Linked DNA regions of Homo sapiens. The gene in region 5 interacts genetically with the main gene of each other region. Each region holds a gene or a part of one and is shown on either strand. Other genes may lie near its edges. The genes, in order: ICMT, PREX1, YKT6, GOLGA7, NRAS and MTOR.

What was found.
Region 1: changes in NRAS (region 5) and ICMT are lethal when combined (synthetic lethality), as found in Homo sapiens cells (one large-scale study listed by BioGRID).
Region 2: changes in NRAS (region 5) and PREX1 are lethal when combined (synthetic lethality), as found in Homo sapiens cells (one large-scale study listed by BioGRID).
Region 3: changes in NRAS (region 5) and YKT6 together harm fitness more than expected from each alone (negative genetic interaction), as found in Homo sapiens cells (one study listed by BioGRID).
Region 4: changes in NRAS (region 5) and GOLGA7 are lethal when combined (synthetic lethality), as found in Homo sapiens cells (one large-scale study listed by BioGRID).
Region 6: changes in NRAS (region 5) and MTOR together harm fitness more than expected from each alone (negative genetic interaction), as found in Homo sapiens cells (one study listed by BioGRID).

Annotation. Positions count from the first base shown.
Region 1 is NC_000001.11:6,228,992-6,233,871, reverse strand, and holds part of ICMT (protein-S-isoprenylcysteine O-methyltransferase), read left to right. Parts: intron 1-228; coding exon 229-398; intron 399-1,752; coding exon 1,753-1,970; intron 1,971-4,880. UniProt on the Homo sapiens protein: Catalyzes the post-translational methylation of isoprenylated C-terminal cysteine residues.
Region 2 is NC_000020.11:48,821,075-48,825,954, reverse strand, and holds part of PREX1 (phosphatidylinositol 3,4,5-trisphosphate-dependent Rac exchanger 1 protein), read left to right. Parts: intron 1-4,310; exon of another isoform or gene 4,311-4,549; intron 4,550-4,880.
Region 3 is NC_000007.14:44,206,954-44,211,833, forward strand, and holds part of YKT6 (synaptobrevin homolog YKT6), read left to right. Parts: intron 1-434; coding exon 435-539; intron 540-1,179; coding exon 1,180-1,245; intron 1,246-4,069; coding exon 4,070-4,171; intron 4,172-4,600; coding exon of another isoform or gene 4,601-4,615; exon of another isoform or gene 4,616-4,655; intron 4,656-4,880. UniProt on the Homo sapiens protein: Vesicular soluble NSF attachment protein receptor (v-SNARE) mediating vesicle docking and fusion to a specific acceptor cellular compartment. Functions in endoplasmic reticulum to Golgi transport; as part of a SNARE complex composed of GOSR1, GOSR2 and STX5.
Region 4 is NC_000008.11:41,492,795-41,497,674, forward strand, and holds part of GOLGA7 (golgin subfamily A member 7), read left to right. Parts: intron 1-4,714; coding exon 4,715-4,867; intron 4,868-4,880. UniProt on the Homo sapiens protein: May be involved in protein transport from Golgi to cell surface. The ZDHHC9-GOLGA7 complex is a palmitoyltransferase specific for HRAS and NRAS.
Region 5 is NC_000001.11:114,708,892-114,713,771, reverse strand, and holds part of NRAS (GTPase NRas), read left to right. Parts: intron 1-4,043; coding exon 4,044-4,203; intron 4,204-4,880. UniProt on the Homo sapiens protein: Ras proteins bind GDP/GTP and possess intrinsic GTPase activity.
Region 6 is NC_000001.11:11,104,783-11,109,421, reverse strand, and holds the end of MTOR (serine/threonine-protein kinase mTOR), read left to right. Parts: intron 1-51; coding exon 52-132; intron 133-1,135; coding exon 1,136-1,241; intron 1,242-1,921; coding exon 1,922-1,937; 3' UTR 1,938-2,887; downstream 2,888-4,639. UniProt on the Homo sapiens protein: Serine/threonine protein kinase which is a central regulator of cellular metabolism, growth and survival in response to hormones, growth factors, nutrients, energy and stress signals.

The DNA.
Region 1 (4,880 bases), about 110 Mb from region 5:
GTCTCAAACAAAACAAAACAAAACACCAGAAACAAAAACAGCCCCTTAAAAACTCCACTTTTTGCAAACCTGAGGTAGTAGATGCTGCAGATGGGTACCTGTGTCCACTCTCAGACAGGTGAGAACAGGGCCTCATAGACTTAGGGACAGCTCAGGAGACCCAGATGTGCACTTATGGTTAACTTGGTTCTCTTGTCCCAACTTAACTCTCTTTTTGTCTTTAAATAGGTACATGTGCTCCCTGTCATTGTTCCACTATTCTGAATACTTGGTGACAGCAGTCAATAATCCCAAAAGTCTGTCCTTGGATTCCTTTCTCCTGAATCACAGCCTGGAGTATACAGTAGCTGCTCTTTCTTCTTGGTTAGAGTTCACACTTGAAAATATCTTTTGGCCAGGTTCGTGTGCCTTATGTCCCCCTCTGGAGGGGAAAAGGGTGGCTCCCATTCAGGCTGAGGACAGTGACATTGATTCACCTTTCAGGTCTAATCTCCCCCAAGCGATTTTCCGCAGACCTCTATCCTCACTAAGCTATTTATAAAGGATGAGCTCCGCTCATGAATTCTGCCTCTGGATATTGACTCGAGGACGTGCTGACCTTTTGCTTTAAAGTTTGCATCACATAGTGCACCATCTAATTTGAAGCCCCAACCTTGAGTAGTTGTGATTCTAATTTTATAATCAGATGATATTTAGACGTTTCATGTAAGAGTTTACTGGCCGGGCACGGTGGCGAACGCCTGTAATCCCAGCACTTTGGGAGGTCGAGGCGGGTGGATCACAAGGTCAGGAGTTCGAGACCAGCCTGGCCAATATGGTGAAACCCCGTCTCTACTAAAAATACAAAAAAGCCAGGCGTAGTGGCACATGCCTGTAATCCCAGCTACTCGGGAGGCTGAGGCAGGAGAACTGCTTGAATCCGGGAGGCGGAGGTTGCAGTGAGCCGTGATCGCGCCACTGCACTCCAGCCTGGGTGACAGAGCGAGACTCCCATCTCAAAAAAAAAAAAAGAGTTTACTAACAAGGTCGGGTGCAGTGGCTCACGCCTTTAATCCCAGCACTTTGGGAGGCCGAGGTGGGTGGATCACATGAGGTCAGGAGTTTGAAACCAGCCTGACCAGCATGGTAAAACCCCGTCTCTACGAAAAATACAAAATTAGCCGGGCCTGGTAGTGCATGCCTGTAATTCTAGCTACTTGGGAGGCTGAGGCAGGAGAATTGCTTGAACCCAGGAGATGGAGGTTGCAGTGAGCTGAGATTGTGCCATTGCACTCCAGCCTGGGCAATGAGAGTGAAACTCCGTCTCAAAAAATAAAAGCCTCCGTATGTGGAATGCACTCTGAAATTGAATGTCTCACAGCCAATGAAATGAAATACATGTGGCTCCTGGGATTCAGGGTGGAAACCTTGGACCCTTTTTTGCTTCTCTTAGCTATACTTGTCCCCAGATGAAGGACTGAGCATGTGGCCGGGGGTCGTGAACCAGAGAGCCCATCAGCTGTAGCAGGAGAGCATCTCTTTACCATGATGCTTTCATTGTGCTTATTGGTGTTTTAAAGTAAATTGATGAACAGCATAACTTAGGGGAATGTGTTTTCTTATGAAATTTTAATGTGATGACAAATGCTGATTGCCCAGCAGCACATTTTCTGTTTCTGTCTTCGGGAAAATAGGTTAATTTTAAGCAGTGCGAAGGGGAGCTCAGGCCAGTGTTTTCACTCCCCGTGTGTCGTTGATGTCTCTCTCCCACAGAACTGAAGCAGATTACCTGGCTCAGTGTCACAGGGCTGCTGATGGTGGTCTTCGGAGAATGTCTGAGGAAGGCGGCCATGTTTACAGCTGGCTCCAATTTCAACCACGTGGTACAGAATGAAAAATCAGATACACATACTCTGGTGACCAGTGGAGTGTACGCTTGGTTTCGGCATCCTTCTTACGTCGGGTGGTTTTACTGGAGTATTGGAACTCAGGTATAATATTAAATATGACACTGCTTTTCTTTTTTTTTTTTTTAAGTAACATTTTAAACGTGATATTCACGTAGCATAAAAGTCACCATTTCAAAATATACAATTAGTGGTTTTCAGTGTATTCATGAGGTTGTTGGTCTCCTTTAAATAATAGGTACATGTTCTTCTTGGCGCGTTTCAAGTGATAATTTAATAAAAGTCAAGAGAACTAATGTAGTCCTTAATGCTTTTCACTATGTGCCCAGAACCTGGGTGCGTAAGTCCTTGGTGATTCTTGGTGCTGTTAGCTACCTGCTGTATCCCTTCATCCTGTTTCTGCCTCTGTTTGTTTGTTTTCTTTTTTCTTTTTTTTTTTTTGGTAGAGACAGGGTCTTACTGTGTTGCCTGGGCAGGTCTCAAACTCTTGGCCTTAAGTGATCCTCCCACCTCAGCCTCGCAAAGTGCTAGCATTATAGGCATGAGCCATTGTGCCTCTCCCTTTCTCTGCCCCTTCAACCTATTAATAGATCTGAAGCACCCCAGAGGGGGTGAGGACAGAGATGGGGCTTAGGGAAGGGAGTGCCCTCTGTCACTCATGTGGCAGCTTGGCTAGTTTTCATCAGAAATAGGTATTAATGGGGCCGAGGCCATGTGTTAGTGAGCTGTGTGAGCCATGGAGGTTTGTTCTGTCTCAGGCTGAAGAAAAGGCCTTGTTTCGTTTCTTTTCTTTTCTTTCTTTCTTTTTTTTTTTTGAGACCTAGTCTTGCTCTGTTGACCAGGCCAGAGTGCAGTGGTGCGATCTTGGTTCACTGCAACCTCTGCCTCCCAAGTAGCTGGAACTGTAGGCACGAACCACCATGCCTGACTACTTTTCGTATTTTTTTTGTAGAGACAGGGTTTCTCGAGTTGCCCAGAGCCATCTTGAACTACTGAGCTCAAGCAGTCTGCCTTCCTGGGCCTCTCAAAGTGCTGGGATTACAGGCTTGAGCTACAGTGCCTGGCCTTTTTTTTTTTTTTTTCCTTTTTGAGATGGAGTCTCACTCTGTTGCCCTGTTGCCCAGGCTGGAGTGCAGTGGCATGATCTCAGGTCACTGCAACCTCTGCCTCCCAGGTTCAAGCGATTCTCTTGCTTCAGCCTCCTGAGTAGCTGGGACTACAGGCGCCCGCCACCACACCCGGCTAATTGTTTGTATTTTTAGTAGAGATGAGGTTTGACTGTGTTAGCCAGGATGGTCTTGATCTCCTGACCTCATGATCTGCCCGCCTCGGCCTCCCAAAGTGCTGGGATTATAGGCATGAGCCACCGTGCCCAGCTTTTTTTTTTTTTTTTTTTTTTAAAGACAGGATCTTGCTGTGTTGCCCAGCCTGGAGTGCAGTGTTCTGATCATGGCTCACTGCAGCCTTGACCTCCTGAGCTCAAGTGATCCTCCTACCTCAGCCTCCCAAGTAGCTGGAATACATTACAGGTGTTGCCACCACGTCCGGCTAATTTTTAAATTTTTTGTAGAGGTGGTTCTCCTGGACGGTTGCCTGTAATCCCAGCACTTTGAGAGGCTGAAGTGGGTGGGTCACTTGACATCAGGAGTTTGAGACAAGCCTAGCCAACATGGCAAAACCCCATCTCTATTAAAAATACAAAAATTAGTTGGGCCTGGTGGCACATGCCTATAGTCTCAGCTACTCGGGAGGCTGAGACCTGAGAACCGCTTGAACCTGGGAGGTGGAGGTTGCAGTGAGCTGAGATTGTGCCACTGCACTCCAGCCTGGGTGATGGAGTGAGACTCTGTCTCAAAAAAAAAAGAGATGGTTCCTCCTTTGTTGCCCATGCTGGTCTTGAACTCCTGGGCTCAAGCCATCCTCCTACCTTGGCCTTCTAAAGTGCTGGGATTAGGCCAGGCATGGTGGTTCTTACTTATAATTCCAGCTAGTCGAGAGACTGAGGCACAATATTTGCTTGAACCTGGGAGGCAGAGGTTGCAGTGAGCTGAGATCACGCCACTGCACTCCAGCCAGGGTGACACAGCAAGAATCTGTCTCAAAAAGAAAAAAAGAAAAAGAAGTGTAAGGATTATAGGTGTGAGCCACTGCACCTGCTCTATGTGTGTGTGTGTGTGTGTGTGTGTGTGTGTGTGTGTGTGTATTTTTTTTATTTATGTATGGTTTTTTGTTTTGTTTTGAGGCAGGGTCTCTCACCCAGGCTATAGTGCATTGGCATGATCATGGTTTACTGCAGCCTCTACCTCTTGGGCTCAAGTGATCCTCCCACCTTAGTCTCCTAAGTATCTGCCCAGGCTGGAGTGCGGTGTCACAATCTCGGCTCATTGCAACCTCCGCCTCCCGGGTTTGAGTGATTCTCCTGCCTCAGCCTTCTAAGTAGCTGAAACTACAGATGTGTGTCATCACACCTGGCTAATTTTTGTATTTTTTAATTAATTTATTTTTTTGAGATGGAGTTTCACTCTTGTTGCCCAGGCTGGAGTGCAATCATGTGATCTCAGCTCACTGCAACCTCTGCCTCCCGGGTTCAAGCGATTCTCCTGCCTCAGCCTCCTGAGTAGCTGGGATTACAGGCATGCGCCACCATACCCGGCTAATTTTGTATTTTTAGTAGAGACGGGGTTTCTCCATGTTGGTCAGGCTGTTCTCGAACTCCCAACCTCAGGTGATCTGCCTGCCTTGGCCTCCCAAAGCGTTGGGATTACAGACATGAGCCACCATGCCCAGCCCCTGGCTAATTTTTGTATTTTTGTAGAGACGGGGTTTTTCCATGTTGCCTAGGCTGGCCTCGAACTCCTGCGGTTGAGTGATCTACCCGCCTCGGCCTCTCAAAGTGCTGGGATTACAGGCGTGAGCCACCACATGTATTTCTTTTTCTTTCTTTTTTTTTTTTGAGACAGAGTCTCACTTTGTCGCCCAGGCTGGAGTGCAGTG
Region 2 (4,880 bases), on a different chromosome or scaffold from region 5:
GGCTAAAGGACCCTTCTAGGAAGGCCTGTAAGAATAAGGCAGGATTGGCTTTCTTTCCCATCCCTTCTTCTCTCACAGTTTCGGGGGTGGGGGGTGGGGGAAGAATTTGTTCTGTTAGAAGCTGGCAGTTTTTGAATTAAACATGTAGACAACCCTGGTGTCTCTGAGCAATGTCAAATTCTAGGGAACTCCTGACTTCTCCTTCTGAGCCACTCCATGCTCCTCTGCTTGGAAGAGAAACAGGAAATACAAACCAATTTTGATATTAATGGGAAAGAAAATATACCTCTCCCTCCCACGCCCCTGCCCTAGATGGTGTGTTTCATTTTAGAACAGATCTAGATTGTGTTTGAGTTAACTGTGGTTTTAAATCGTCCACGTGTAGAGTAGGAGGAAGCTGGAATAATGGAAATTGATTGGAGCCAACCATTCTTATTATTCAAGAAACAGGAAAAAAAAAGATTTCTCTACTTTCACATTATCTCCTTAACACTTTACATTTGCTGACTTCATCACATTTTTCTTTTTGTATCTGATGTGTCAGTTCTGAGATGAATTGGTTCTGACTTGGACATGTGTCTTGGACCAATCATGCTACGTGTCCTGACCTCAGTTTCCCCACCTGTGAAACAAGGAGCGGGGAATCCGGGCTTCCTTTCTGCCTGGGCCTTTTGTGTGTCCCCAAGCTGGTGCCAGAAACAGACGGATTGTGTAACCTGACCAGCCATACGTTGTTTGTGAGCCACAGGAGTCCTCTCTCATCTTGGCCCGTCAGGAATGGCCCCTAAACATCCCAAGGCATTTTCGTTTTCAAAACTAACCTGGGGCTTAGAGCTTCAGGAACTGCTAATTACCAAGGCTTTCCATGGTTGCAAGGCTGGCAGCCTCAGGTTGTGATTCTCTTCTGTCTTCCCACTCTCTCTTCTCAGCCTTTATATTTGCTAAGGGATTTTCCCTGCTGTCTCCTGGCTTGGAAGAATGCACGGTAATCCCTCCCTGCTTTTATTTCCATGTGGTTAGAGGCAGGCCTTAAAGGACCACCCTGGTCTCCGTGTGTCCTTGGTGTGAAGGTCCCATCGGCCCATGGAAACCGTGGAAAGTAACCCCCGTGATAGGGGCCATGTGTGGCTTCTGTCCTCAAGGAGAGGACGGTGTAGTGGAGGATGGCCAAATGGGTGTTTAAAAAAAACAATCCAAGTGCAAGGCTCTGGAGCCAGACTGCTTGAGGTTAAATCCTTGGACTTGTGACCTTGGGCAAACACCTTAACCTGTTTGAGCCTTATTTGTAAAAAGAGGGATGTTAATAGGTCCTATTTTATAGGTTTTTAAAGAAGATAAGTGAGTTATAGAAATTGATGTAAAGCACTTAGAACAGTGTCTGGCAGTAAGGTATATAAATATTGGTTATTATTGTTGTTGTAGGAAAATTAAATAATACAGATAATTAGGGTTGTGGGACTTCAGCATCCAGAGAGCAGGGGTGATCAGAGAGGGCTTCCTGGAGGAAGTGAGGTCTGAGTTAAGTCAGCACTGAGAGGAGGATGGGGGCTCTGAGTGAGTTTCCTTTTGACACCCTAAACTCCGGCCACAGGAACCAGTGGTTTTGTTTGGTTCCAGGCCGAGGGCTTTGTGGTTCCTTGAGAATCTTCCCATCTTTCCCCATCTCCTTCAGGAACTGGGTTGCACTCCCTCCCTCATCTCCAGGGAGTCCTCTGAGTTTGGTGTTTTGCGTGTGTTTATTAAATAATCATGAAAAGGCAAGGACAGCCCTTTCACAGAGATGCTGGATCGGTCTTGGGGGAAACAGTGCCTGGGGTTTTGACTCAGAACCTTGGCTCGAATCATTTCGAGGCCCTGGCTATGTGGGGTACTCCCCGTGTGCTCTGGGCAGCGTTAGTCATGATGAAAACAATGACAGTCATTGCTGTGCAGGAACTGACTTTGATTCATCACTTGCCATTCTAAGCACTTTGCATGTGTCAACTCATTTAATTTTCTTTATGAAGGGGATGCTGTTTTTATCCCCATTGAGAGGTGAGGAAACTGAGGCAAAGTGAATCTAAGTGAGCTGCTCTGGGTCAGGTGGACAGCATTGCCAGGATTTGATCCTAGGCTGCCTGACCCCACAACTCATGTCCCCAGCCACTTGATAGACCGCCTTTGGCTGATCCAAGAAGGGCTTGGCACATGATTTATTAAGGTGGCAGAACTGGGATTTGAACCCAGGTCTGTGTGATGTTTCACCTCCGCCTGCGCTTCCTCCTGTTACTTGCCCTCTGTGACTCCCATTCTTTTCTCCACAGAATGGGAAGAACTGTGGACGGATAGAAATGGCAGGCTGCCGAGTTCTTGCTCTGGGCTCCGGGTCTGTTCATGGCACGAGGGTTGAGTGAGGCTCTGGAGTCATGCTGCTGGTGTTCAAATCCAGGCTTCTTCCACTTGGACTGTAGGTGACCTTGGGCTGATCACTGACTTGCTCTGTGCCTCAGTTTCCACATCTGTCCAACGGGCACAGTGTAGCACCTGCGTCACAGGGATGTGGTGAAGCTTGCCCCCCACTCCCCTAGAGGAGGCTGAGTAGACCTTGGGCCCACCTGCCAAGGGGAGGCACCTCAGGGGCAGGTGCCAGTAACTCCCATGATGGGGTGTGTCAGCTGGGCAGTGGTCGAAAGAGAAGAGAGGGCCTGGGTGGGTGGGCAGAGAGGCCGGTGGGTGGGAGTTGGTCAGCAGCTCCTCGAAGGTCTCCCCGTGGCTGAGGACAGAGAGCTATAGAGACACAGAGGGTCTGCCCGGAACCGACCAGGATGGGAGTCTCTGAGGAACAGGGATTGTGGGCAGAAAGCTCCCAGAATGCTTTCTGTGGTTCTGCTTTTTGGAGGGAGGAGACAAAAGTTTTTCTTCTCATTGGAGCTCCGCTTGCCAAACAAGAAACTGTGGTTTTTTGTTGTCACTATTTTTTTTTCTGTTTTAAAAGATTCTGTACTCCTAGTCTCACACTAGGGAGAAATGCCACGGGTGGTTGGGGTGGGGGCAGGTCTTTGATTTCACAGTCATTGAGGCAGAGGGACCTCCCCAGTAACTTGGGGGGATTTTCACGTGGTCCTCATATGAAAAGTAGGATGCTGAGAGGTATATGTAACACAGTTCTTTTGGAAAATAAACAATAACCATAATATACACGTGTGTTATATGTATAAGGTGACATTAGGTTGGAGAAAAGGATGGAAGGATGTGTATCTTTTACAGAAAGGCAACCAGGAAGATAAGGAAGTAAAATCCTGTTTATAATACCCTTTTCATATAAAATTATGCATATGTATGCGAATATATTTTTTAAGAAGCCGACAGGAAGAATTGTATTTTCAACATGGTTATTAGATTAATGCAACAGTAATAATGGTAACAATTTGCTAATATTTATATACTTGCAAGCCCTGTTTATAAGTTCCTTAAGCATTAACTCAAAAGTTGCAGGTATTCTTATGCTTCCTGTTTTACAAATGAAACAAAGACACAGAGAGGCCAAGTCAGTTTCCCAAGGTCACACAGCCTGACAGAACTGGCACTTGGACCCAGGTAATGCGGCTGCATGGCCCACATTCTTCACCACTATCCTGAATTGCACCAAAATGAGGCTGTGTTCATGAGCAAAATTACTGCCCCTGTGAGACCTCTGGGCTGCCCAGGTGGGCAAGAATTAAGTCAAAAAGTCCACCTTATTTCAGTTTTCAGATGCCGGAGAGCCTGGAACAGGCCACCTTGTGTTGGGCTCATCATCATCAGGAAGTCAGTGAAAATCTTTTGATGGTAAAAACTGAGTGTCAGCAGGATTTAGATGGGTTACATTTTTTTTAATGTATGGCAGACAGAGAGCTCTGTACAGATAAAACCATGAAGATATGAGACTGCTTTTCTCTGTGTGCAGGTATTTATGGAGCATCTGCTGTATATCCTGGGCAGTGTTCTGGGCCACGAGAATGAAGTCATCAACAGGTCGTTGTCCTTATAAGAAGGACAACCCTGTGGGGATTCTACAACTCATTCTTCAGACAAACCTTCTGGAAGCCTACCTACTTTTATTCTGGTGTTTGCCCTGGTAGCAATTTAACTGTCACTTTAAGAAGACGCGAATGGGGTTGGTGTCTCTGGCTTTTGAGACTTCAGGGCACCCCTTTCTTGGAGAGAAAGATACTCCTTTATCAGGCCAGAGAGCTGAAGACCTGTTGGGCTTGGGGCCACTCCCTTTAATAAAGAAACCCACATCCTATTTGCTTCACAGCCGCTCTCCCTTAAAGGTTTTGCAAGAGTTTAAGTGTTTGAAGCAGGTCATGCCTGGCTGCAGGAGAACCTGACCTCTCCAGATTTTTGGGGCTTTTCTTTTTTTCCAACAGACACAGGCATGCTGGCTAGAATACTGGAGGGAGGTGGGTGATAGGGTGGGCTGCCCCTCAAACCTGTGTGCTGTGTCCCACAGCATCATTCCCCAGACATGGGGCCAGGTCGGAGCTGATTCCTGCCCTGCGTTTCGGAGATCTTGAACAGAAGCCAGGTGGGTCATTCGGTCTGAATCTCCTTGTTTTGCAGGTGACATAAATTGCGTCCCCAGAGGGGAGGTGAGCACCAGTTAAGGGCAGTAGCCACTCAGTTTGTTAGAGTTCCATCCCCAGATACCTGGGAAGAGAGCTTGGTGGCCCACATCCTTTTCTGGGGATCTGTGTTTTAGCCAGGATCAAAAATCCCCCCGTTTTTTTTTAAGATGGAGTCTTGTACTGTCGCCCAGTCTGGAGTGCAGTGGCGTGATCTTGGCTCACTTCAACCTCTGCCTCCCGGGTTCAAGCGATTCTCTTGCCTCATCCTCCCGAATAGCTGGGACTACAGGC
Region 3 (4,880 bases), on a different chromosome or scaffold from region 5:
AGGCTTCATCCTATACCCCAGAGCACCAAAATACCTCCAAACACATGGAATCTGGTGGTTTCTTAAATCTAGGGGACCTAATTCTCTTTTTTAAAAAATTGCTTTGGAAAATTAGAGGACCAGTGCCCCTTTTTTCTGGAAATCTGTAGTTTAAAATTCAAATACCTTTATTACTCCCCAAGTGAGGTTCATCTCGGGCTGGGCATACTTTTGATTCTCAGAATATTTAGGATATGTTTTAATGATAAAAATTTGGAAAGAACTTTAGCCTAGATTTTCTCTGTTGCCATTATATGTCCCCCTCATTCCTCCTTCCTGGGCTGTGAAGGCCAAGGAGCCTCATTCAGGGTGAGGTGCTCAGGGGTGAAGCCCTGTCATTGAGACCACTGGTGAGTGCACAGTGGGAGGCTTGTTGAGTCTCCTTTGTCTTGCAGGTACTAGATGAATTCTCCAAGCAAGTCGACAGGATAGACTGGCCAGTAGGATCCCCTGCTACAATCCATTACCCAGCCCTGGATGGTCACCTCAGTAGATACCAGGTAGGGTTAAAGGAAGCTTCAGCAGACACCATGTGGCCCAGAATCCATGTGAAACTGAAAAAGCCAACTGCCCTGATAGTTCTGGTCTAATTACTTCTGACAGCTTCTGATGCTGGTGTCCTCTCTCAAGCCTTACTGTTTGGAAAACAGAGAATCTACGTTCAGACCGGGGAACCCAAGCTCTAGGCAGGCTTTGGGTTTCTGTTACATGTTAAACAGGCTGTGGGTTTTTTTTTTTGTTTTTTGTTTTTTGAGTTGGAGTCTCACTCTGTTTCCCAGGCTGGAGTGCAGTGGCGCAATCTCGGCTCACTCAACCTGCACCTCCTGGGTTCAAGCGATTCTCCTGCCTCAGCCTCCCGAGTAGCTGGGATTACAGGCATGTGCCACCACGCCTGGCTAATTTTTGTATTTTTAGTAGAGACGGTTTCACCATGTTGGTCAGGCTGGTCTCGAACTCTTGATCTCTGGTGATCCACCCGCCTCATCCTCCCAAAATGCTGGGATTACAGGCGTGAGCCACTGTGCCCGGCCCAGGCTGTGGTTTTTAACCTGTGAAAGTTTGTCCAGCTTCCTCAGTTTTAGGTTTTGTTTGCAGGTAGCCACTCCAGTCCTGACTTTATTATTTTTCACTCTTTCCTAGAACCCACGAGAAGCTGATCCCATGACTAAAGTGCAGGCCGAACTAGATGAGACCAAAATCATTCTGGTAAGCAGGAAGATGGAGAGCAAGCCCAAGAACTGAGGCGGGGGTGCGATTTCCACTGGCCAGGCATGCACAGATCCATCCTCGTTTTAATATAATAGTAACCACGGCACTCTCCAGCAAGTGGGATTGCCCACCCCTTCCCCCACCCCGGGCATCAGACTGTCTTTCCTATACCCTTCTCTTGGTTAATGGCACCCATTGTTTCTAGGGGACCAAGCTGGGAACCAGTGGAACCCTCAAGTCTCCCTTCCTCATGGCTACTGCCTGTCTGACCATTTACTGGGTTCCTAGGGTTTGGCTTCTGAAGACCTGGATTCCCACCCTGGTGCCTTTGTTAGGGTTTCGGGTGCCTCCACACCCCACAGGTGCCTCCCCTTGCAGCGTTTGCATTGAAGGTGAACAGATTGAAGCACCGTGCACTGACCACAGGGCAGCTTCTGGAATATGGGCCCAGGGTTGTCACATAGGCCCCTTTGAAAAGAGCCAGAACCCTGCATTTTGAGCTGAAATCTCCTGATTTGTAACTGTTGCTTCAACTCTTTTTTTTTAAATTTTTGCATACAAGTGGAATGTAAGCAGCTATCTGTTTTTCTCAGGTTTTTCTCTTACAGCCTTTGCCTCTAAGTGGTCCCCTTGCCTCCTGCTCACCTCCAGTCTGTCCACCAGAGAGTAGTCATTGATCTGCACAACTTAGAACCCTTCAGCAGCTCTCAGATCCGCCCCAGGATAAAGTGCAAACTAACTCACAGTCTCCTGACTGGGCCCTGTTCTCTCTTATACCCTTTCTTGCCCAGCTCACACACAGGCGCCTGAAGGTTGGGCCTTTCTGACCAGATGTCACAGTTTTGTCACTGCTTGTTTACATGTCTCCCTGACCAGCGTATGAGCACTGGGACATCTTTCCATCCTGCTCATGATACAGTGCCTAGTTTATACCATGCTCAGCAGTTGATAGATACCTGGAGTGGATTGAAACCCACATACAAAGCTTTACCATTTACACAGGCATAGCTTTAGTGTGTACATCAGCGTCTCCTGGGGTTGGAGTTGTTGGCCTGCGATGGAGCCTGGGAACCTGCATTTTATAAAAAGCATCCCAGGGGCTTCAAACACAGGTGTGCTGACTGCACTCCAAATAACGTGGCTTTGGAATGAACGATAGATGTGAAAGTCTCATGGTATCTGTGTCTTTTGAAACCTTGTGAGCTTTCTTACCACCTAGGTGGCATTTCTCCGTTTTCTCCTCAAGCCATCTCTTTCTGTTGCTCAAGTCCTAGTCTGAGTACCATGACACCTGGGACACCCGCTGTTTCTCCTCTCCCCACGGTGGGGAGTGGATGAGTCCTATTCACCCAGCCTCATCTAGCTGCAGTTGTAAAATCTAGATGATTGGTGTGCATATCTGAATCAGTTAACTTTCTGTGTTAAAAATTTGAGTCGCTCAGCTGTGTGTAGGGATGAAGGACATTCTTGCTGGCTCCTTGTTCTATGGCGCTTCATGTGTGCATCTAGCTGCTGCAGCAGTGGCCATCTGAGGAGAGAAGCGAGCTGCTGCTTCCTGAGGGCCCTGGCAGCAGAGCTGCTGGCTCTTGTGAGGTCTCCATCTCTAGACCCCTTCCCATGGGGTCAGTGTTTTCATTTCCTAAGTCAGAGTTTGTAGTGATGACATTTAGGACATAGCCCATTTAGAAGGCAGGACATGTTCTGTCATAGTGCTGTCTGGTATATATTTGGGGCATGTGTGTAACTTAGAATTTTCTAGGAGCCATATTTTAAAATGATAAAAGGAAAATAGGTAGAATTTAATTTAATTATATATTTTACTTAACGCAGTATATCCAAATACAATTTTTCCAACATGTAATCGGTATAAAACTTGTTTTTTTTTCAGTATAAAACTTACTAATGAAGCATGTGTGAGTTTGCATCTGAAATCTGGTGTGTCTGTACTCAGAGCGCTGCTCAGTTTGGACTTGCCTCACATCAAGTGCTCAATAGCCATTTCCCACCGCCTTTTGTTTCCTGTGGCTGCTGTCAACAGAAACCCTCAAATATTTGCTTTTAACAGATAGCTCTGTGGGCCTGGCTGGTGTCTTTTGGGGCTCTGAGTGTCTGTCCCAGGCCTCTCTCCAGCCTCTGGTGGCTGCTGGCCATCCTTGGCATTCCTTGGATTAGAGGTGCATCACTTCAGGCTCTGCCTCTGCCGTCACGTGACCTTCTGTGTGTGTGTTTCCGTTTCTTACCAGGACATCAGTCATGGAATTAGATGCCACCCTAATCCAGTATTACCTCTTCCTAACTAGTTACATCTGCCAAGACCCTATTTCTAAATATGGTCACATTCAGAGATTCTGGGGATGTTAATTTCTGGGATGCGGTTGGGGTTGGGGGGTGCGGTGTGGGTCACTCTCCAACCCAGTACAATCATATAGTGCCCAGCTACTCTTTTTTCCAAAGCTCCATGCACACGCACATGTGCGTGCACACACACACACACACACAAATGTATATATAAATGTGTGTGTATATATATATATGAGTTTTCCTGGAGTGCTGGTTATCTAAGCCTGTGCTGGGGACAGCTTTTTGGGAAGTCTGCTACATCCCAGTTAGATCTTCTAGATTTCACGGGAATGTCACCAGGTTCTGTTCCATCCACTTGGACAGTAACTATTCTTGGACCGAGTCTCGACACCTAGAGGTGAAGTTTGTGTGTGTTGGAGAGGAACCCAGGTAAGGCACTTTCCCCCATGACTGAAATATGAGGGGCTCATGTCAGGGCACGTACTGAACAGAGCTGGATTCTCTTTTCTTTTTTGTCCAGCACAACACCATGGAGTCTCTGTTAGAGCGAGGTGAGAAGCTAGATGACTTGGTGTCCAAATCCGAGGTGCTGGGAACACAGTCTAAAGCCTTCTATAAAACTGTGAGTACCCAGCACCTGCTGCCTCCTGGGTGTTCTCTCTAGAGAGCAGTCGCAGCTTGCTGCTTCTGGCACTCTCCACTATGAACGGGTCTTTCTTAGACTGTTGAATCATGGTGGATGATTCCTTGTGCGGCAAGAGCCTAAGGTGAGCGCCTCAGGCCCAGGTGGTTGGAGGCAGTTCACTTGGGCGCCGTTGGAGTCGATGCGGGCCGAGGCCTTGTTCCACTCCTGCCTCTGCTCTGCCCTCTGCTGCTCTGGCTGATTTCTGAACTCCTACTCCCAGTCCAGGAAGGCTGGTTCAAGTTCTGATCACCAGAGATTTACTGTTGAATCTTATTCCTCTTTCTGCTGAGTAGACATAAGTCTTTAAGATGCAAGCAATTCAGCCTTCCTGAAGAGGTTCTTAAGCTTTTAATTTCCCTTTGACAGAAAATATTTAATTGACAAGGATGGGTGCTGCTGACTGCCGCTTTCTCTCAGGTCAGTGCTCATGTCTTCCTATGTGGAGATGGCACTGTTGGCCCATGGTTGGATAGTCATAGGGACAAATTTACTTGGTCTGTCCACACACATTTGCTTTCATGTGCACATTGGAGGGAGATGGCTAGGTGGGATTAGGAAGATAGTCTGTGACCAGAAAGCAAGAGAGAAGGTGGCAACAGTGGTCCCCACAAACCACATCCCAAGTGGGAACCACATCTGTTGTCCT
Region 4 (4,880 bases), on a different chromosome or scaffold from region 5:
TTATTTGGACATTAAAGATTCCTTTGCTTTAAGGTTTTAAAGCAACACTTACACCTCATATATTTGAGCTAAATGTGTATACACAGAATCAGACATTAGCCTTCCACTCTGTGTGTGGCAGAGCCTTTATTTTGTAATCTAAGTGCAAAAGCACAATGTAGTTACTGTGCTCCACTGATTCTTGTCAGGAAATTGATGTTTCTAAATTCTGGAGTCCTTTTACCTCTTTGACTCTGTATAGCCCAGAACTGCTTGTGGTACTGAGTACTATATGGAATGTTACATGGCACTCTTCAATTGTGCCTTTGAATTTCTTTTTTCTTTTTAAATGTTTGGGTTAAAACACTAGCTTATGCTTTAAACCACTAGAAAAGCTTTGATTGTCTGTGTATGTGTGTTGAGATTAAATTTAAATTACAGGTTTAAACTTTCCTTGCTTTGATGAAAAATTGAAAGGTTTCTGTTTCTCTACTACTTACCCTAGAAATTTTACTGATTGCTCTGCTATTGGAGCTGATTTTCCTTTTGTGAGAACATCACACTTGGCAACATAATAGAGAAAGTGACTAATATGCAAGTGTTTTGTATTATTTTAAAGCATTTTTTAAAAATACACACACATTTGTGCCCTTTAATTTGGGAGTAGGATAGGTTCTGTCTGTTAACAAGTTCATTTTCTCTGCTGCCTTTTAGAATGTAATACTTTGATGCTTAAGCGATTTGTTGCCAGAACAATTCCTTAAAGGAAACTTTATTCTCATTAGCCTTAAAATACAGATATCTTAGTTACCCTTGGTCTGGGTAGAAGAATGAGTGAACTGTAATTGAGGCATTTTTTCCCTTTAAAAATATGTCTCCCCATCTGGTTAGTAATTACCTTTGACCTGCCACCCTTGATACGTGATCACTGCATGCTTCACCATGCTTTCTACTGTGTAGTTCACAGTAATTCTGGGAAAATAAGCCTGATTTCTCTTTCCATTCTGATTTTTGATGTTTGTGGGTCCAAATTTTATTTGGCTGTGACTTCTCATATATCTAAATTTTGATAGAGCTCCTGTATCAGTGTCCAGGAACCTAAGGGAGAACACTGGCCACTGTTATTCATAGCCTAAAGGTAGTAAGATACAAATGCCAACATTTGTTCTCTTGAGCCCTTTCTTGTGAAGTTTGTCGTTTGCCTTTATTGATGCCTTCTGTGATTTTTACCCTTTATTTCCCTTTTTTAAAATAACCTTTCAAAAACTTGTTGGCATTTACTTTTCTTTAACCATTTATCCTTTCTTTTTCTTTTTTTATTAACCTTTTTTTGTTTGTTTGTTTAACTGACGTATGATTTACCTCTAACCTATAGGGCATTGTAATCTCGGAATAACGCATAAGAATTAAGTGTTTCTGGCTGGGCATGGTGGTTTGCACCCAAGTAATCCCAGCTGCTCTGGGGGTTGAGGTAGGAGTATCCCTTGGGGCCAGGAGTTCAAGACCAGTCTGGGCAACATAGCGATACTCTGTCACTAAACTTAAAAAATAATAATAATTAGGGTTTCCGGGATAAACAGTAATTCTGATATGAAAGAAATAAGATGTTTCTGGGTTGAATCCCATGGTTTTGAATTGTATTGTAAAGAAATATAAATAATTCAATGACTTATAACATAGGCACATCAAATGTGATTGGAATTATTTAGACTTTTGTAGACTTATCGGTGGACAAACTGAAGGCATTAACGTAGGCATAATTAGGTGAACGTAACAGCTTACCATTTTTGTTTGCTGAGCTCTCCTCAGTCTGTTTTCGTGAATGAGAACTCACAGTTTCCCAGATGACCAGCCTTGACACCACATCTACAAGGGGTAGCTCAGTGAAGAAACACTGCCCCTGCGTTTAAAGGCCGTCTTGACCCACCTAGCCTTTGTCCAAATCTCTAATATTCCTGGAAATTTAAAGTAACTCCTTTTGAAAAATGGGTAGAGCCAACACCACTTTAAAGTTTGCATTAAATTCATGCATGCCACTAGCCCATTGACTCCTCACATTTTCCACACAACGGACAAAACAATGACTACAACTGCTTCTAACTTAAAGAGTTGTCATAGCTTAAGGATGGTCATGAATTGTTTTACACTTTAAAAGATTATGTTCTTGAGGCCAGGTGCAGGTGGCTCTTTGGGAGGCCAGGGGGGTGGATCACATGAGGCTAGGAGCCTGAGACCAGCCTGGCAACATGGCAAAACCTCGTCTCTACTAAAAATACAAAAATTAGTAGGGAATGGTGGTGCACGCCTGTAATCCCAGCTACTCGGGAGGCTGAGACACGAGAATCACTTGATCCTGGGACCAGAGGTTACAGTGAGCCAAGATTGCGCCACTGCACTCCAGCCAGGGTGACAGAGTGAGACTCTGTCTCAAAAAAAAAAAAAAAAAAAAAAAAGATTACATTCTTGGGAATAGTGAATAGTAGGGCTCATACTGTATGTTGAGGGTTTTTTTTCTTTCTTTCTTTTTTTGAGACAGGGTCTCACTCTGTCACCCAGACTGGAGTGCAGTGGTGAGATCTCAGTTCACTGCAACCTCCACTTCCCAGGCTCCAGCAATCCTCCCACCTCAGCCTCCTGAGTAGCTAGGACTATAGGCATGCACCACCACGCCTGGCTAATTTTTGCATTTTTAGTAGAGACAGAGTTTCACCATGTTGCCCAGGCTGGTCTCAAACTCCTGAGCTCAAGTGATCCACCCAGCTCAACTTCCCAAGTGCTGGGATTACAGGAATGAGCCACCACGCCAGCCTGATTTTTTTTTTTCTGAGTCGGTTTCTATTATAAAGAAAGATTTAATAGGTTCACAGAGACAGGAAAGGAGAAAAAAAAAAAGCCAAACAAAAAAGTCTTTTAAATAAGGACTTCATAAAAGAGAGAATTCATACGTAAGTAGTTATTAATTTTAGAAATAAGGGAATCCTTATGCGAGAGAAGGCCTAGAGTGCAGACAGATAAGAATGGCAGTATTGGATGATTGCTCTCCTAATGGGCCTTGAAAGTCCTGGGATGAAGTAGCAAAATTTGAAATCTGTTATACAAAGTACTATTAGAAGACAGTAAAGTAATATTGGAAGAATAAAGTAAAAGCAGATGATTGAGTGAAACAATGGATGACAGTACAGGTTCTTTCTTATGTGAAATATGTGGAACCAGAAGTATTTCAGTTTTTGGGGTTTTTTTAGATTTTGAAATATTTGTTTATACTAATGAGATATCTTGGGAATGGGATCCAAGTCTAAACACGAAATTCATTATGTTTTATATCCACCTTATACATATAACCTGAAGGTAATTTTATACAATATTTTAAATGACTTTATGAGACAAAGTGTGTGTACACTGAACCATCTTATCACCCTTTGTGAGCACGCTTGCATGGGAGAATCTGGCTGTGCATGGAAAAGATACATGGCAGCTGATGGGGGCTGGAAGGGTCTTTTTCTCTTGGGGACACTGAATAAACTATGTGTTGTGCGCCTGCATTTTGACTGTGACCCCTCACATGAGGTCGGGTTTGGAATTTCCCACTTGTGGTATCATGTCAGTGCTCAAAAGTTTCAGATTTTGGAGCCTTTCTGACTTCAGAATTTAAGATCAGGGATGCTCAACCTGTGGTAGTATTAGTGTAAATTTAAGATAATGGTGTCACCAAATAGAAAGAGGTAATAAGAATGACTTAATGTGAAAAATTGTTTATTAGCTTGAGATTTTACCTTAACAAATTTTACCTTATTTAGTAACAAGATAATTGCTTCAAAAGAGATAGGCTGAGTAAACAGAATATAGAACCTACGCCTTTTGATCCTTCTGCTAAAATGCCATTTTTTTTTTTTTTGCCTAGTAAATTCCAGTCTTTAGTTACTCAATTTAAGATTACCTGCCCTTCCCAGATAAAGGGAATTTCTCCTTGCTTTTGTGTCCCCACTAGGCTTTATATTTGCCTATATGATAGTACCCTGTCAGTTTATTGCTTTTTTTTTTTTTTTTTTTTTGAGACGGAGTCTCGCTCTGTCACCCAGGCTGGAGTGCAGTGGCGCAGTCTCGGCTCACTGCAAGCTCCACCTCCCGGGTTCACGCCATTCTCCTGCCTCAGCCTCCCCAGTAGCTGGGGCTATAGGCACCCGCCACCATGCCCGGCTAATTTTTTTTGGTATTTTTAGTAGAGACGGGGTTTCACCATGTTAGCCAGGATGGTCTCCATCTCCTGACCTCGTGATCCGCCCACCTCAGCCTCCCAAAGTGCTGGGATTACAGGCATGAGCCACCGCACCTGGCCAGCTTACTGCATTTTTATGTTTACATTGCCTGTTCTGCTTGCATAATTAAACTCTTAAGGATTGAGACAGTGCTTTATCTTGAGATTTTTCATAGTATCTGATAGTAGGCGCTCAGTAAGTGTGAAACTAAATGAATGGAAAGAGGAATAGAGCCTAAAGTTACTTGAAATTTAGTAGAAAGAATAAAGAAGTACCTTATTGAGCCTTGAAGCTATCCAGTATTTATAAGAGGGATAAAATTAAACAAATTAAGCAGTTTTGGTAACTTAGGCCCAGATTTAGTCACCAAAAAAATTGTCAACTAAGAATGGTGAGAAAACAAGATAAATTAATGATAGCATGCATTAGTTGATTTTTTTTTTCCAAAACTTAATTTTTAAATATTTTCTTCTCTACAGATTGATAGGCAGCAGTTTGAAGAAACAGTTCGAACTCTAAATAACCTTTATGCAGAAGCAGAGAAGCTCGGCGGCCAGTCATATCTCGAAGGTTGTTTGGCTTGTTTAACAGCATATACCATCTTCCTATGCATGGAAACTCATTATGAGAAGGTAATGCTACATT
Region 5 (4,880 bases):
GATGATCTTTGTGTTCTGAATCTTTATGGGGAAATGAGGTTACCACACTAGGGAAGATAGAGCTTTTTAATTATGGGAAGAGTTGGTTTTAGGTTGTTTGACATTGAGAATCTAGGGTAATTACTGAAAGTTAATACTGGAATTTATTTTACATAATATACTGTTACTATAAAGTTTGATAATACATAAGTGAAGCTTGCTACTGGGAATGACTTGGAACCAGAGTTGTTGTAATTAGAGATCACGAAGGAATTTCAGAGAGGAAAACATCTCCAAGAAACATCTTTCAGTATGTAATGGAAAAGATAGGCCAGGCACAGTGGCTCACACCTGGAATGTCAGTGCTTTGGGAGGCCAAGGCGGGAGGATCACTTTCAGCCCAGGAGTTGGAGACCAGCCTGGGCAACAGAGCAAGACCCTGTCTCTACAAAAATAAAAATAAAAAAATTAGTCACACATGGTGGCAGCTACTCGGGAGGCAGAGGTGGGAGGATCACGTGAGCTCAGGAGGTCGAGGCATGCTCACTCCACTGCACTGCTGCACTCCAGCCTAATCAACAGAGCAAGATTCTGTCTCCAAAAAAAATAAAAAATAAAATGATAGGAGTAAGCAAATAGGAAGTCCATAAAGATGAAAACAAAGCAAGGGAACATAAAGATAGACTTTGTCCATAGAACCATAAAGTTTCAAAGCTAGATTGGACCATAAAAATTCTAGTACAATATTCTTATTTTGCAGAATCAGAAACAGAGTTCAGAATGTCGTTTGTTAGGTTTTGGAGTCAGGATTGTTATTAGTAGCAGAGCCAGGACCAAAAACCCAAAGCTCCTTTTTCTTAGCACAGTGTTCTTAAACAGAATAATATAATGGTTAAGAATGAGAACTCTGCCTGGATTGAAACCTAGCTCTGTTTATTAGCGACGTGACTCAGGGGCTATGTGGCTTTCCTAACCTATAATATGGAAATAATAATACCTACCTCATAGAGTTGTGAAGATTACAGTTTTAATAAATACGCAAATCACTCAGAATAGTGCCTGGCACACAGTAAATGCTACTTAAGTGTTCTGCCTAAAGGCTTGAGTCTTGGCTTATTTTCTATCCATGTGAAGATGTCTGCTCTCAAAAGCAGATTGGTCCAACACTGAATTCAAGTGTTCTTTTCCTAACCTGTTGTACTTCCCATTTTTTTTTTGTCTAAAAGTAATAGCAGTACTTAATAAAATGCCCACACTTGGCATGCATCTAATAAATGTTTTTTGAATTTCTAGAAGTCATTTTTCTTCTTTCTTACAAGAAATTTATTCATTTTTCTATATGCCTTAGCTCAAACCAAAGAGTATTTAAAACATCTTATGAAAATGCATATAGTAGAGCAAGATAAGATTAATGAAAAATAGGCTTAAGTGAGACCAAAAAAATAAGGGTAAAATAAACAAATTTAGGAGTGAGCATATTCTGTGATTGTGCATGAAGTTCCAGTGGCTTTCTAAAGGTGGACTACAAATTTGGTCACTGTTGTGAAAAGGAAAGTAGCCAGCTGAAAGATTCAGTATCTGTATGCTGAAAGCCGTTAAGTTGCTCGGACTAGAAGGAAATTTTCCCATGGATCCTCAAAGAGGCTTGTTTAATGTAAAAATCAGTAGTAACCTGACAGTGACATGGTCCAGGTACTTTAGGCTGTCTTATCCCTTAATGTAGGCTATTACCATCAAGCACAGTTTTGCAAATAGCCAGTGGAATGTAGTTCAGATACATGACTTTGTGGGTAATCCAGGGGTAGAGACTAAAACAGTACTGTGCAGTATGTGGTTATTTACAGTTAATTAAGATTAAATAAAATTTAAAAATTAGTTCCTTGACTACCAAATGCTCAATAGCCACTAGTAGGTACCATGTTGAACAGTACAGATATAGACCATTTCCATCATCACATAAAGTACTGTTGGATTGTGTTGGTCAAGACAATCTAAAGCAATTGTTTCCCAGGTGTGCTGTGTGGTGTGCCTTACATGTCATTGAAAGGGGTGCTGTCAGGAGTTCTAGATGCTTCAGCCTCCCTTTACTAAGAGCAGTTCTTATGTTTTCTATTTTATCGCTTGGGCTTCCAGATACAATGTTTTGTTTTAGGTTTGTTTTTTTTGTTTGTTTGTTTTTTTTTTTTTGAGACGGAGTTTTGCTCTGGTTGCCCAAGCTGGATGGAGTACGGTGGTGCGATCGCGGCTCACTGCAACCTCCGCCTCCCGGGTTCGAGAGATTCTCCTGCCTCAGCTTCCCGAGTAGCTGGAATTACAGGCGTCCACCACCATGCCTGACTAATTTTTTTTGTATTTTTAGTAGACTTGGGGTTTCACCATGTTGGCCGGGCTGGTTTCAAACTCCTGACCTCAGGTGATCCACCCGCCTCGGCCTCCCAGAGGGCTGGGATTACAGGTGTGAACCACCGTGCCCGGCCTGTTTTAGTTTTTTAGAGATGGAGTCTCCCTCTGTTGCCCAAGCCAGAGTGCGGTGGCATGACACTCTCAGGGTTCAACCTCTCAGGGATCAAGGGATCCTCCCACCTCAGCTTCCTGAGTAGCTGGAACCACAGGCACATGTGCCACCATGCCCAGCTAATTTTTGTATTTTTTGTAGAAGCAAGGTTTCACCATGTTGCCCAGGCTGGTCTCGGACTCCTAGGTCAAGTGATCCTCCCACCTCAATCTCCTAGAGTGCTAAGACTATAGGCGGGAGTCACCATGCCCAGCTTCATCTACAATTTATTTGAAGAAAATGTTTGAGCACCACCCATCTTGAAAAGTGATAGACTGCCTTCCATTAAATACTGTCACACCTAGTTATTTAGCAGCAGTGAGCTTCACTTTTTATACTTTAGACCTTAATCTAAAGGGTGATTTCTAGTTGCCAGTTAAATCCAGAGCCAAGCTCTTTGGAGAATCCAGGAGCCTCACTAGGTCATGTATCAGGATAAAATACCCATCCACTCCCATTAGAAGGTGAGCTTGTACTTATGGCTTCCTGATGGCTGCTGCAACAAGTCTAAAGCAGTCTCCTTAGTATACAATGTCTTCTCTAAGTGGTAGAAAAAAGCAAAAATACTACAAGTTAATAGGGCTACATAAAATTTGCTAGTTTCTTTTTTGCCCTAGCCATTTATTCCTTCCTGAAATCTTGTCTCTCTCTCGCTCTCTCTTTCTCTCGCTCTCACTTTCTTTCTCTTTTTCTTTTCTCTTTTCTTTTCTTTCTTCCCTTTCTTTTCTTTCTTTTTTCCTGTTGCCCAGGCTGGAGTGCAGTGGAACAATTATGGCTCACTGCAGCCTTGACCTTTCTGGACCCAGGTGATCCTCCCACCTCAGTCTCCCAATTAGCTGGGACTACAGGCATGCGCCACCACACCCAGCTATAATATATATTGTATATATATTTTTTATTTATAAATATATATAAATATATATTTATATGTGTAAATTATATATATTTATATATTATAAATTATATATAAATATATATTTATATATAATATATATAATATATATTTATTTTTATATATTTTATATATATTTTTTGGGGGGGGTTGGGGGGGATGGAGTCTCACTCTGTCGCCCAGGCTAGAGTGTAGTGGCGTGATCTTGGCTCACTGCAATCTTCGCCTCCCAGGTTCAAGCGATTCTCCTGCCTCAGCTTCCCGAGTAGCTGGGACTATAGGCGCCTGCCACCACACCTGGCTAATTTTTGTATTTTTAGTAGAGATGGGGTTTCACCATATTGGCCAGGCTGGTCTTCAACTCCTGACCTTGTGATCTGCCCACCTCAACCTCCCAAAGTGCTGGGAATACAGGCATGAGCCACTGCACCCAGCCTAATCTTTGTATTTTTTTGTAGAGACCGGGTTTTGCCATGTTGCCCAGGCTAATCTCAAACTCCTGGGTTCAAGCAGTCTGCCCTCCTCAGCCTCCCAAAGTGCTGAGATTGCAGGCATGAGCCACTGTACCCAGCCTAATCTTGTTTTTCTTATGTTCTGATAATATATTCCCGTTTTTAGGGAGCAGATTAAGCGAGTAAAAGACTCGGATGATGTACCTATGGTGCTAGTGGGAAACAAGTGTGATTTGCCAACAAGGACAGTTGATACAAAACAAGCCCACGAACTGGCCAAGAGTTACGGGATTCCATTCATTGAAACCTCAGCCAAGACCAGACAGGTATGGTACAGCTTTCAGCATTTGTGCAAGAGTTTGCATCAGTTGATTAACTCTGGTAGAGATGTGATCCATATTCATATTCTTTGTTGTTATGCATTTTTTTCATTTTTATTTTTTTATTTTTTATTTTTTTTTAGGCAGAGTCTCACTCTATCTTCTAAGCTGGAGTGCAGTGGTGTGATCTCAGCTCACTGCAGCCTCTGTCTCTTGGGTTCAAGTGATTCTCCTGCCTCAGCCTCCCAAGTAGCTGGGACTACGGGCACATCATCATGCCCGGCTAATTTTTGTACTTTTAGTAGAGACAGGGTTTTACCATGTTGCCCAGGCTGGTCTCGAACTCCTGGCCTCAAGCAATCCTCCCACCTGGGCCTCCCAGAGTGCTGGGATTACAGGTGTGAGCCACCACGCCCAGCCTGTTGTTAGGCATTTTTAGTAGTGTTCTTTTTCTTAACGCTTGTTTAAACCCAAAATGAACTTACTAATATTCTGTTATGGCATGTTTACTCCTGCATTAACATCCACAAATATTTCTTGGGAAGATCCTTGACTAAAAATATTTATAAACATTAGTTATTTCTCTGTCAACACCAGCCCGTTTATGGCTTAAGCCTCCTGAATGGAGTCTTTAGTTTAATGTAGTTTTGTTCCGTGTTTCTCACATTACCCTTTTCCTTTGC
Region 6 (4,639 bases), about 100 Mb from region 5:
CTGTTGTATTGCTCCCATTCTTACAGTTATTTCTACTTTTGTGTATTCCAGTTGGAGACGGTTTGGTGAAACCAGAGGCCCTAAATAAGAAAGCTATCCAGATTATTAACAGGGTTCGAGATAAGCTCACTGGTGAGTGTGTCATGTGTTTACTTAAAAGGGACATAAAATCTGAGCACACTTTCCTCTCTGAGTGGTGGTCAGCCCCATGTCCAGTGGTGTTAGTGACGAGCTTTGGCACCATGCAGCTGACAAAGAGTGTCTTTGAGGTCATCAGTTAAACATTGTCTCTGATTCTTCTTTCTGATGACTGATAACAGTACTTAATGTTAGTTTAATCTCATTTAACTCAGGAGGTGAATAAATTTCTTTTGGGTCCAAAATCAGCCAAATTCAGAGAAGTGTTTTTTAATCATGTCTTTTTTTTGTTTGTTTGAGACAGTTTTGCTCTTATTGCCCAGTCTGGAGTTCAGTGGCTCCATCTTGGCTCACTGCAACCTCTGCCTCCCAGGTTCAAACAATTCTCCTGCCTCAGCCTCCCGAGTAGCTGGGATTACAGGTGCACGCCCAGCTAATTTTTTGTGTTTTTAGTAGAGATGGGGTTTCACCATGTTGGGCAGGCTGGTCTCAAACTCCTGACCTCAAGTGATTCACCCACCGCACCCGGCCGAATTTTTCTTTTTTTCTTTTCTTTTTTTTTTTTTTTTTTGAGACAGGGTCTTGCTCTGTCACCCAGGCTGGAGTGCAGTGGTGCGATCTTGGCCCACTGCAACCTCCACCTTCCAGGTTCAAGTGATTCTCCTGCCTCAGGCTCCCAAGTAGCTGGGACTACAGGCATGTGCCACCACACTCGGCTAATTTTGTATTTTTAGTAAAGACAGGGTTTCACCATGTTGGCCAGGCTGGTGTTGAACTCCTGACCTCAGGTGATCTGCCTGCCTCAGCCTCCTAAAGTGCTGGGATTACAGGCGTGAGCCACCGCACCTGGCCAAACTTTTCAAATCCAACTATGATGGTATCCTTCATCTTCATGTCTGACGATAAGCTGTTGGCATAGACAGTTAAGCCCACAGGGAACAAGAAGTGCATCGATTGCCAGGAAGAGAGTGAAATGTTTTTGTTCCTCCTGTGCTAGGTCGGGACTTCTCTCATGATGACACTTTGGATGTTCCAACGCAAGTTGAGCTGCTCATCAAACAAGCGACATCCCATGAAAACCTCTGCCAGTGCTATATTGGCTGGTGAGTGGGGCTCTCAAAGTGACTTTGTTAAAATAAGCAATCAGGTCCCAAGCCTAGGCCCCAAAGCCAGAGTAGCAAAAAGAGATTTGGTGAGGTATCTGTAAAGGGCAGTTAGAGCTCAGATCTCTTTAAAAATTCATATTTACTGCATGTGCCCATTGTTATAAAAAAAGAAACTGAGAAATATGGATGCATACTTGGAAGGCAAACACTAAAATTAAAATTACATTAAGATAAGTGGTTCAGGAGAATAGGCAAGGCTTGTTTGTTTGTGAGGGGTTCCTTTTGGGTTTTGCTGTCAGTCCAGTGCAGAGATACAGGAAGGGCGAAGGAAAGAAAAAGCTAGAGCAGTGACAGAGAGAAGGAGATAAAAAGACAGATTTATGATCTGGGAGTCTAACCTCAAGGGCCACTCTGGGGTGTGCTTTGATTAATTGCCCAAGGCATGCTTGAAGGCAGAAACTTGAGAGAGCGGGCGCTGGGGAAGTGTCCTTGCGGGACCTCGGTGGGCATTAGCCTTGACTGGAAATGATGAGTGTGTCCCATGCAATTAGCTGTGGGAGAGCTCAGGGAATACCCTAGGGTTGTCAGACCTTGGCCTTTTCATTTTCAAGTTATCTGTGTAAACCTTTGAAGAAGCTCAAATTATTAAAATATTCCTTTTCTTTCTGCCTTCTTAGGTGCCCTTTCTGGTAACTGGAGGCCCAGATGTGCCCATCACGTTTTTTCTGAGGCTTTTGTACTTTAGTAAATGCTTCCACTAAACTGAAACCATGGTGAGAAAGTTTGACTTTGTTAAATATTTTGAAATGTAAATGAAAAGAACTACTGTATATTAAAAGTTGGTTTGAACCAACTTTCTAGCTGCTGTTGAAGAATATATTGTCAGAAACACAAGGCTTGATTTGGTTCCCAGGACAGTGAAACATAGTAATACCACGTAAATCAAGCCATTCATTTTGGGGAACAGAAGATCCATAACTTTAGAAATACGGGTTTTGACTTAACTCACAAGAGAACTCATCATAAGTACTTGCTGATGGAAGAATGACCTAGTTGCTCCTCTCAACATGGGTACAGCAAACTCAGCACAGCCAAGAAGCCTCAGGTCGTGGAGAACATGGATTAGGATCCTAGACTGTAAAGACACAGAAGATGCTGACCTCACCCCTGCCACCTATCCCAAGACCTCACTGGTCTGTGGACAGCAGCAGAAATGTTTGCAAGATAGGCCAAAATGAGTACAAAAGGTCTGTCTTCCATCAGACCCAGTGATGCTGCGACTCACACGCTTCAATTCAAGACCTGACCGCTAGTAGGGAGGTTTATTCAGATCGCTGGCAGCCTCGGCTGAGCAGATGCACAGAGGGGATCACTGTGCAGTGGGACCACCCTCACTGGCCTTCTGCAGCAGGGTTCTGGGATGTTTTCAGTGGTCAAAATACTCTGTTTAGAGCAAGGGCTCAGAAAACAGAAATACTGTCATGGAGGTGCTGAACACAGGGAAGGTCTGGTACATATTGGAAATTATGAGCAGAACAAATACTCAACTAAATGCACAAAGTATAAAGTGTAGCCATGTCTAGACACCATGTTGTATCAGAATAATTTTTGTGCCAATAAATGACATCAGAATTTTAAACATATGTATATGAGTGGCGTTTTAGTCATAATTTTGATCAGTTCAAAAAGGAAGCATTTACTCTCTTCAGCACTCAGCCTTCAGTAAACACTCTGTAGTAGGGATGACAGAGGACGTAAGGGTGTACGTGACATGGTCCCTTTCCTCAGACTGTTCCCAGGCCAGACAGGTGGAGACAGCATGCCACTGAAGTGAACAGAACTTACCCCGGCCAAGTGCTGAGAAGAGGCATGTATGGGCCACAGGTAGGAGCGTGTATTCCACCGGGTGAGCCTGGAAAGCCCCATAGAAAGGGGGACATTTGGCATGGGTCTTAAAGAGGGGTGGGAGTCTGTCAGATGAACCAAGGGGGGGGCATTCTCAGCAGAAAAGGAAGTGTGAGGCACTGCTGTAAAAGCAAGGTATCCATAGCAGTGGCAAGTATCAGTTGGACCATTTGAAATCACAGGTACGTGGACCATTTTTAATATACAAAACTGGCATTTTCTTATGGCTGCACCTCATAGTTCAGCATGTCTGGCTCAGTGGTCAGTGGGGAATAAAGGGAGTAACAGGAAAATAATAGGAACTAAAGGAGGCAGGAAAGCAGTACGGGGCCGGGGCCAGACCGGGGCCTCCCTCAGTTCAGCAGCAAGGAGTATGAACCTGATGCTGTGAAGTTTTAAAACGGAGTAGTATCTGAGTGGTGTTTTTTGTTTTTGTTTTTGTTGGAGACTGGGTCTCGCTCTGTCACCCAGGCTGAACTGCAGTGGCACAGTCATGGCTCACTGCAGCCTCGGCCCCCTGGGCTCAGGTGATCTTCCCGCCTCAGCCTCCCAATTAGCTGGGACTGCAGATGAGCACCCCCACCGCCAACTAATATTTGTATATTGGGGGAAATTCACCCCCGATATTTCACATAGGTTCTTTTCTATATTCCCTAAGTGTCAGCCGGTCTGAGAAAAGGGACAGAGTACAAAAGAGAAATTTTAAAGCTGGGTGTCCAGAGGAGACATCACATGTTGGCAGGTTCCATGATGCCCCCCTGAGCCATAAAACCAGCAAGTTTTTATTAGTGATTTTCAAAAGGGGAGGGAGTGTACGAATAGGGTGTGGGTCACAGAGATCACGTGCTTCACAAGGTAATAGAATATCACAAGGCAGTGGAGGCAGGGCAAGATCACAGGACCGGGGCAAAATTAATATTGCTAACGAAGTTTTGGGCACGCTTTGTCATTGATAACATCTTATCAGGAGACAGGGTTTGAGAGCAGACAACCAGTCTGACCAAAATTTATTAGGCGGGAATTTCCTCGTCCTAATAAGCCTGGGAGTGCTATGGGAGACTGGGGCTTATTTCATCCCTACAGCTTTCACCATAAAAGACGGCCGCCCCCGAAGCAGCCATTTCAGAGGCCTACCCTCAGGGATGCATTCTCTTTCTCAGGGATGTTCCTTGCTGAGAAAAATAATTTAGCGATATTTCTCCCATTTGCTTTTGAAAGAAGAGAAATATGGCTCTGTTGTGCCCAGCTCACCGGCGGTCAGAGTTTAAGGTTATCTCTCTCGTTCCCTGAACATTGCTGTTATTCTGTTCTTTTTTCAAGGTGCCCAGATTTCATATTGTTCAAACACACATGCTCTACAAACAATTTGTGCAGTTAATGCAATCATCACAGGGTCCTGAGGCAACATACATCCTCATCAGCTTATGAAGATGACGGGATTAAGAGATTAAAGTAAAGACAGGCATAGGAAATCACAAGGGTATTGATTG